Homo sapiens: one gene and its partner. The protein of the gene in region 1 interacts with the protein of each later gene in a pairwise test. Each region holds a gene or a part of one and is shown in the gene's direction. Other genes may lie near its edges.

Region 1 (3,822 bases):
TACACTCCTTTTGGAATAAACGAAGAGGTACATTATATTTGACACAAACTTGGGAGTGTTAAGAGGTCATAAGTGTTTACCTATCAGATAACCATCTGTGGCTCTGTGTTGGATTTTTTTTATACCATTAGGAAAATGGGAATTTTTTTATAGGCCTGCCATACTTCTACTTTGCCAAATAGCACTTTATTATCAAGATACACCCATGGCTCATTTCAGACTCACTGAACTTTTTTTATATGAATGCACAGTCGTCATATTTTGGGCAGTCTGTGAGTTCTTGGTAACTCATCCCCTTACTACAAAAGCACTAAGTGAACAATACAAAAGTATAAAAGCACAAATTTGAACTTACATAGTTTAGTTTAAGTATGTTTCACTAGAAAATCAAATATTTAGATTTCTCACATTGAAAATGCTTAGGATTGAGGTTTAGCTGCTTCCTTTAAAAAAAAAAAAAAAAAAAAAGCCCCATGTCTTTTTTCTTTACCTACTGGAGTATTCTCAGACCATTTCCTACATGAAAACACCCACCTGCATTCCTTTAGTCCCCTGTATGGTCTCTTTGAGGATCAGTGCCCACTAGGTTGTCTTGTAGGTGGACTAATCTACAGATCACCTTTACCTTCAGTATTTTCAGGAACAAGTGAATCATGGAGTCAAATAAGAGCTTTGTTTTGTTCACTTGACTCACCACTTGACTGTATTCCCTGAAAATGTTAAATGATAGTTCTCTAAAAAGACCAGGTCAAGCTAGCAGCCTCTAGGCTTCCATCCATGTCACAGCTGGGCACCTGCTTGGGTGCACCTTCTGTGTTGGTGTCCTGCGGACTGCACTCCAGGAGCAGTCAGCCTGTGCTCCTGAGTCTCCCCTCCCCAGGCCCTGGAGGAATGGGGAGTGAACCCACTTAGTTGCTGAGGCCTGCAGTTCTTCTGGATATTTTAGTGACCTCACAGACAGCAAATTAAAACAGGAGCTGATTTAAGAAAAGAAGTGCTGGTACCAAAAAAGAACTTTCTGTTTTTACCTTGGGATAATTTTTTATAAGCAAGTCAAAGGGACTCTCTTTAAGTTACTGATGGAGAAGATATTTGAGGTTTTTTGGGGGGCCATTTTTAGTGGCTCTGATATATCCAAGCTCTTTTAGACACTTTAGAATGAAGAGCTGTTCTAATGTTCCAAAATCTATTCGTTGGTCAAAACATTTGGTAGCATATGAAGCTTTATACAGACTAGGGATATTGGAAAAGAAATGTGACTTTTAAAATGACACCTAAAACATGCATTCGGTGTCTGGTCTGTTAACTAGGGGCCATCTGGGTCAATAACAAGTTACCTCATGGAGAAAATGCAATAGGACCAAACAAGGAAGGAAATAGGAAGTAACTCAGTCTCTCTTGGGTTTAATGCTAACCTGCTAAGGTCAGGCAAAATTTAAGTGGATTTAGAAACCATAAAACCTTCTAGTGAGATGAATGCAGTGACAAAGGACCTTTGACCAGAGAGTCAACTCTTCATTATTCGGACTTTAAAGCCATCTTTTTGGAGGTGATATTGTATTAGGCAATCCGTTATTTACTAGACATTGCAGAGCACCCCTTCTAGATGATGAGGCGGATATAGGGGGAGTGAGGGCTGTGGTCCATTCGGTTGGGAAGATGGAACACGCAGATAAATCAGTGTGTGCTACAGTTCCACCGGTAACTTCACTCTCATAAGGTGGATTCCAGAAGCATCTTGTTTCCATTATCCCCCCAGTCCTCTTCCTCTCATCTAGCCAGTGGCTGTAATACTGAGGTGGAGAGAACAGTCATTGTTTAAGCTGGCTATCTTTTGGCCTGAGGGTTTGGGGTATGTTGATATTTGTCGGTTACTATGACTTCTTTTTTTTCCCCCCTCAATTGCATCAAACCCTTAAAACATGGTGGTAAGTGAGCGATATGCATGCTTTTGGAGTTTGTTTAATCTCCGCTTCAGTCTATACGATGCACAGTTCATAATGTTAACACTTTTCTTCAAGTTTACTTCATTCACTTTCACAACTAATTTGGATTTCAGTTTGCTGTTTAATCCTCATTTACTTTGGTTTCTGTATCTTTTTTCTGTAATTCTGTTCTTTCCCTCTCCCCTGACTTCCCTGTTAGGGGTCAAGTCGTTTTTTTGTCTGACCTGTAGGGGAGAGTGGTGCTGCAGATAGTGATTCAGTCCAGGAGAGTGGGGAGACATGAGGCTCTTTTGTTTGTCAGTGTGAAAGTGGATTTGGGGAGACAGATGAAGAGGGCTCCTGGGATTTTGCCCCCTTGTGAATCTCAACTGCTCCCACTTGCAGGCATGGCAGCTATGCCGGAGGCACTGTCGCTAAAACACCTCCATGCAACCCTTTGCATGTTACCAGCTTGTTGGGCTGGAAAGTGACATTACTAATCAGACACCAGGGAATACCCACACTCCAAAAGGAAAAACAGCCCGTGGTGTGAGGTGCTTGGGTTGGTGCCTACAGTGTCATGCTTTGAAAAGATTAGCCTGGCTATTGCGATTCTCCCTCCCCTGCTTTTTATTTTAAATTTGGGAGTAGATTGGTGTATTCTTGATTCGGCTCTCTTGCATTAGAATTTTGTATTTTCGAGTGCACAGCCAGAGCACTAAAAGTATTCCAAGTTTGCTCCTATGTCTTTTCATTTAAATCCCCAAAGTGCTTAGTTCCTAGCATGTAGCTGAGCTGGCTTGGCCGGGATGCTGAGCATTAGGATGTTGTGAGGGGAGAATTTAGGCTGGGCTTTTGTGTCTTAGTACCTGGTATGTCTTTGTATCTCTCCACTGCATACACAGCACACAGATGTCTTGGGTGTCCTTAAGTCTTAGTTTGTTCTCTGTACCCGTTTGATAGTGTATACTGTTGTTAGTAGTGGACTCCTGTGGACACTAGTGTGTCGCTAGCCTATTGTTTTGGCTGATGAGTCATTGGTTTGTGGTTAGTTCTTTTTTTTGAAATCCTTTTTTGCTCCAGTCACTGTGTGTGCTGGCGGTGGCTTTGCCTCTCCGTTGCCTCGAAGGAACAGGTGGAGCAATGTCTCCCTCTGACAGACATTACTCCCGACATGTGCTCCTGCAGATGCCTACACTGAGACTGTAATCTCCATAACTGCTTCATGTGCACCAAGCCCCCTTGTGGAATCCTGCTGAGAATTTTTCTAGAAGCCTTCAGTGAAATCAAACTGTTCTGAATCATTTAGTTTACCTGACTTTTGTATAATAAAAACAAACTAAGAGCACTTACTTGTTCCCTTCCCCTTGTGGGTCTTTTTAAAACATTCTCTCTCTGTGAATGTGTATCTCTGCTTAAAGGGGATCAAGTTGCACTTAGTTGAAACACGAAAGACTTATAAATCAGAATCATAAAGTATCAATTTAAGAAGGCTTAAACTCATATAATGTCAGCTTTTTGATTTTAAAAAAGTTATCTCATGGCTCCCCTGGGTTTGGCTTCTGGTTTTGGCCAGGGCACAGGAGTGAGCCTGTCTTTCTGAAGTCTTTTCTAGAGGGATGTCACCACTGTTCAGCTTTCCTCGGTGTGTCACAGAACATCCTCTGGTATACATACACTTGTTGCTGGCATAGCCCAGCATGGCTGACCCAATTTAGGTTGAACTATTGTGATTGCCTCTTCTCAATCTCATTCTCCAGACTAAAGACTCTTCTAAAGATTACAAAACAGCAAGAAAAACAGAGTGCCCTTTGGGGAAGTGAGGATGTGTGGCTAAATGTACAGATGGTACACATCCATTCACATTGCAGGATTGAGCCAAAACTGCATGCATTCA
Region 2 (3,822 bases), on another chromosome or scaffold:
AAAAAAAAAAAAAGTGTCAAACCTACATCCAAAATGTCAAAGTGCTCAAAAAAGTTGGGAAGGCTTCACCAAAGATGTGACATTTAGGGTAGATAACACCTGTTTGTGGATACTAATGTCCTGGTGAGTCAAAGAAGAAAAGGATGTACATTATATAAGCTGGATGCAAAAAGGAACAATAATGAGGACATGCAACCAAAAACTTACATAGGGAGAACAACTTTACTTACTCAGGGAAGGCAAAGAGACCACTTAAGAACTCCTTCACATGTGTTATGTCTTAAAAGCTGACTACTGGAGTTGTATCCCTTGCACAGCATCCCTTTGCACCAAAGTGAACACTACTCTAAGAACATGTGTTCAGCTCTCCTGAATGCCAAGCACAACCATGCTTGGCATGGCAGTGGTGTCTTATTTCTGCTCCTCTTTTTCCCCAGGGCATGCCATTGCAAGAGAATGCTCAGCCATGTTCATCTGGGGACCTGCTCCTGGTAGAGCAATAGGATCTGTGTGCCCAGCACCACTGCCCACCTAGCTGTCCTGGCCTGTGCCCAATGCTGACCTTCACCTCAGAGTGTGGCTGTACCACATTCGGTGATGTCACTCTCACTGAACCTTCAGCCTCCTTCCTGGGACTTCCTGATGGACTGTTATCCAGGGCAGAATGTGTTGATTTTCTAAATCACATAAATGAATAGCTTGACTGTTGATTATGTAGAAAATCAGAGCAAATATTTGCATGGCTTTGTGCAGCCCATTCTTGAGCATCTGATTCTCCCCAGAATTCTAAAAAACCTGCTGCTTTCTCAAGCCCTCAGTAAAGACATGCTTTCTTGATAATCCTAGCCAAACCTATTCATTTGACATCTTTGTTACACAAATGGTTAACCACAGAGTTAACTTCAGAAATGGCTGGCAGGTATGAAGGTTAGAAGATTCATGCACTTTTGCTAGACTGAATTGGAAGTTAAAGAGTAAGTAGTTACTGACTGCAGAGGCCTGGAAAACCATGGAAAAAATCCTATTCCTCAAAGTCGAGCCCTACCTCCTACGCCTCTTAAATCAATTGCCACAGTGACCAATTTGTCAGTCACCTAAAGGCAGCTATCCTGACCACTTAAGGGAGAATACTTATAATCTTTATACCTAAGTAAAGATTGTGAGAGGAAAGAAATGGTTTAAAGAATATGAATGTGTCACACTTCTGAGGTTAATGATAAATGAATTGGTCCTGCTTACCTCAGGAAAAACTTTCAAGTCTTTCTGAAAAACTAATTTAATTCAGTAGTATTTTCTAAGATTTAGGTTATGTTTTTAATCAATTTGGAAACCAAGATTTACTTATAGAAAAAAAGGAAAAGGACCTAGATAGGTTTATTCACATAGAATCCCAATTTCACTTCTCTGGATGATACCATTTTCTACAAAAGCAATTATGTTCTAAAATTTAAGTGTGCTTTCTTAGGCTTTATCAGTTCACAGTGTTTCCTTAAGAAATATGATCCAGTATTTTTTCCTAAGACTAAAGTTGAGTTACTACGTTTATGACTGAGAAATGAATGTTTGTTAGTTTGTTTGTTTACAATAAGAATTTTTTCTTTACCATTTTATTTTTATTTTCCCCAGGTGTATTTGATATAGTGTTTGCAACAAATTCGACCCAGGTGATCAAAATGATTCTCAACTCTTCTACTGAAGATGGTATTAAAAGAATCCAAGATGATTGTCCCAAAGCTGGAAGGCATAATTACATATTTGTCATGATTCCTACTTTATACAGTATCATCTTTGTGGTGGGAATATTTGGAAACAGCTTGGTGGTGATAGTCATTTACTTTTATATGAAGCTGAAGACTGTGGCCAGTGTTTTTCTTTTGAATTTAGCACTGGCTGACTTATGCTTTTTACTGACTTTGCCACTATGGGCTGTCTACACAGCTATGGAATACCGCTGGCCCTTTGGCAATTACCTATGTAAGATTGCTTCAGCCAGCGTCAGTTTCAACCTGTACGCTAGTGTGTTTCTACTCACGTGTCTCAGCATTGATCGATACCTGGCTATTGTTCACCCAATGAAGTCCCGCCTTCGACGCACAATGCTTGTAGCCAAAGTCACCTGCATCATCATTTGGCTGCTGGCAGGCTTGGCCAGTTTGCCAGCTATAATCCATCGAAATGTATTTTTCATTGAGAACACCAATATTACAGTTTGTGCTTTCCATTATGAGTCCCAAAATTCAACCCTCCCGATAGGGCTGGGCCTGACCAAAAATATACTGGGTTTCCTGTTTCCTTTTCTGATCATTCTTACAAGTTATACTCTTATTTGGAAGGCCCTAAAGAAGGCTTATGAAATTCAGAAGAACAAACCAAGAAATGATGATATTTTTAAGATAATTATGGCAATTGTGCTTTTCTTTTTCTTTTCCTGGATTCCCCACCAAATATTCACTTTTCTGGATGTATTGATTCAACTAGGCATCATACGTGACTGTAGAATTGCAGATATTGTGGACACGGCCATGCCTATCACCATTTGTATAGCTTATTTTAACAATTGCCTGAATCCTCTTTTTTATGGCTTTCTGGGGAAAAAATTTAAAAGATATTTTCTCCAGCTTCTAAAATATATTCCCCCAAAAGCCAAATCCCACTCAAACCTTTCAACAAAAATGAGCACGCTTTCCTACCGCCCCTCAGATAATGTAAGCTCATCCACCAAGAAGCCTGCACCATGTTTTGAGGTTGAGTGACATGTTCGAAACCTGTCCATAAAGTAATTTTGTGAAAGAAGGAGCAAGAGAACATTCCTCTGCAGCACTTCACTACCAAATGAGCATTAGCTACTTTTCAGAATTGAAGGAGAAAATGCATTATGTGGACTGAACCGACTTTTCTAAAGCTCTGAACAAAAGCTTTTCTTTCCTTTTGCAACAAGACAAAGCAAAGCCACATTTTGCATTAGACAGATGACGGCTGCTCGAAGAACAATGTCAGAAACTCGATGAATGTGTTGATTTGAGAAATTTTACTGACAGAAATGCAATCTCCCTAGCCTGCTTTTGTCCTGTTATTTTTTATTTCCACATAAAGGTATTTAGAATATATTAAATCGTTAGAGGAGCAACAGGAGATGAGAGTTCCAGATTGTTCTGTCCAGTTTCCAAAGGGCAGTAAAGTTTTCGTGCCGGTTTTCAGCTATTAGCAACTGTGCTACACTTGCACCTGGTACTGCACATTTTGTACAAAGATATGCTAAGCAGTAGTCGTCAAGTTGCAGATCTTTTTGTGAAATTCAACCTGTGTCTTATAGGTTTCCACTGCCAAAACAATGCCCGTAAGATGGCTTATTTGTATAATGGTGTTACTAAAGTCACATATAAAAGTTAAACTACTTGTAAAGGTGCTGCACTGGTCCCAAGTAGTAGTGTCTTCCTAGTATATTAGTTTGATTTAATATCTGAGAAGTGTATATAGTTTGTGGTAAAAAGATTATATATCATAAAGTATGCCTTCCTGTTTAAAAAAAGTATATATTCTACACATATATGTATATGTATATCTATATCTCTAAACTGCTGTTAATTGATTAAAATCTGGCAAAGTTATATTTACTTTAAAATAAAATAATTTTATTGCAATGTATTTATCTTCATTACTTAAAATAGATGCTAATTTATTTTAAAATAAGACTACCTTGAATGAGTATGAATATATTTTTATTTAAATTTTGATACAACTGATAGTTTAATACTATTGGTTATAGATTTTTTATCCTGACATTGAAAAGTTAAAGAAAAAACATTTTGTTCTACTGCATGT

Evidence for each region.
Region 2: the proteins of NPTN (region 1) and AGTR1 interact in a two-hybrid assay, tested with the Homo sapiens proteins (one large-scale study listed by BioGRID and IntAct).

What each region holds. Positions count from the first base shown.
Region 1 is NC_000015.10:73,563,649-73,567,470, reverse strand, and holds part of NPTN (neuroplastin isoform b precursor), read left to right. Parts: exon of another isoform or gene 1-533; intron 534-3,685; exon of another isoform or gene 3,686-3,822. UniProt on the Homo sapiens protein: Probable homophilic and heterophilic cell adhesion molecule involved in long term potentiation at hippocampal excitatory synapses through activation of p38MAPK. May also regulate neurite outgrowth by activating the FGFR1 signaling pathway.
Region 2 is NC_000003.12:148,739,363-148,743,184, forward strand, and holds the end of AGTR1 (type-1 angiotensin II receptor), read left to right. Parts: intron 1-437; exon of another isoform or gene 438-594; intron 595-1,626; 5' UTR 1,627-1,673; coding exon 1,674-2,753; 3' UTR 2,754-3,641; downstream 3,642-3,822. UniProt on the Homo sapiens protein: Receptor for angiotensin II, a vasoconstricting peptide, which acts as a key regulator of blood pressure and sodium retention by the kidney.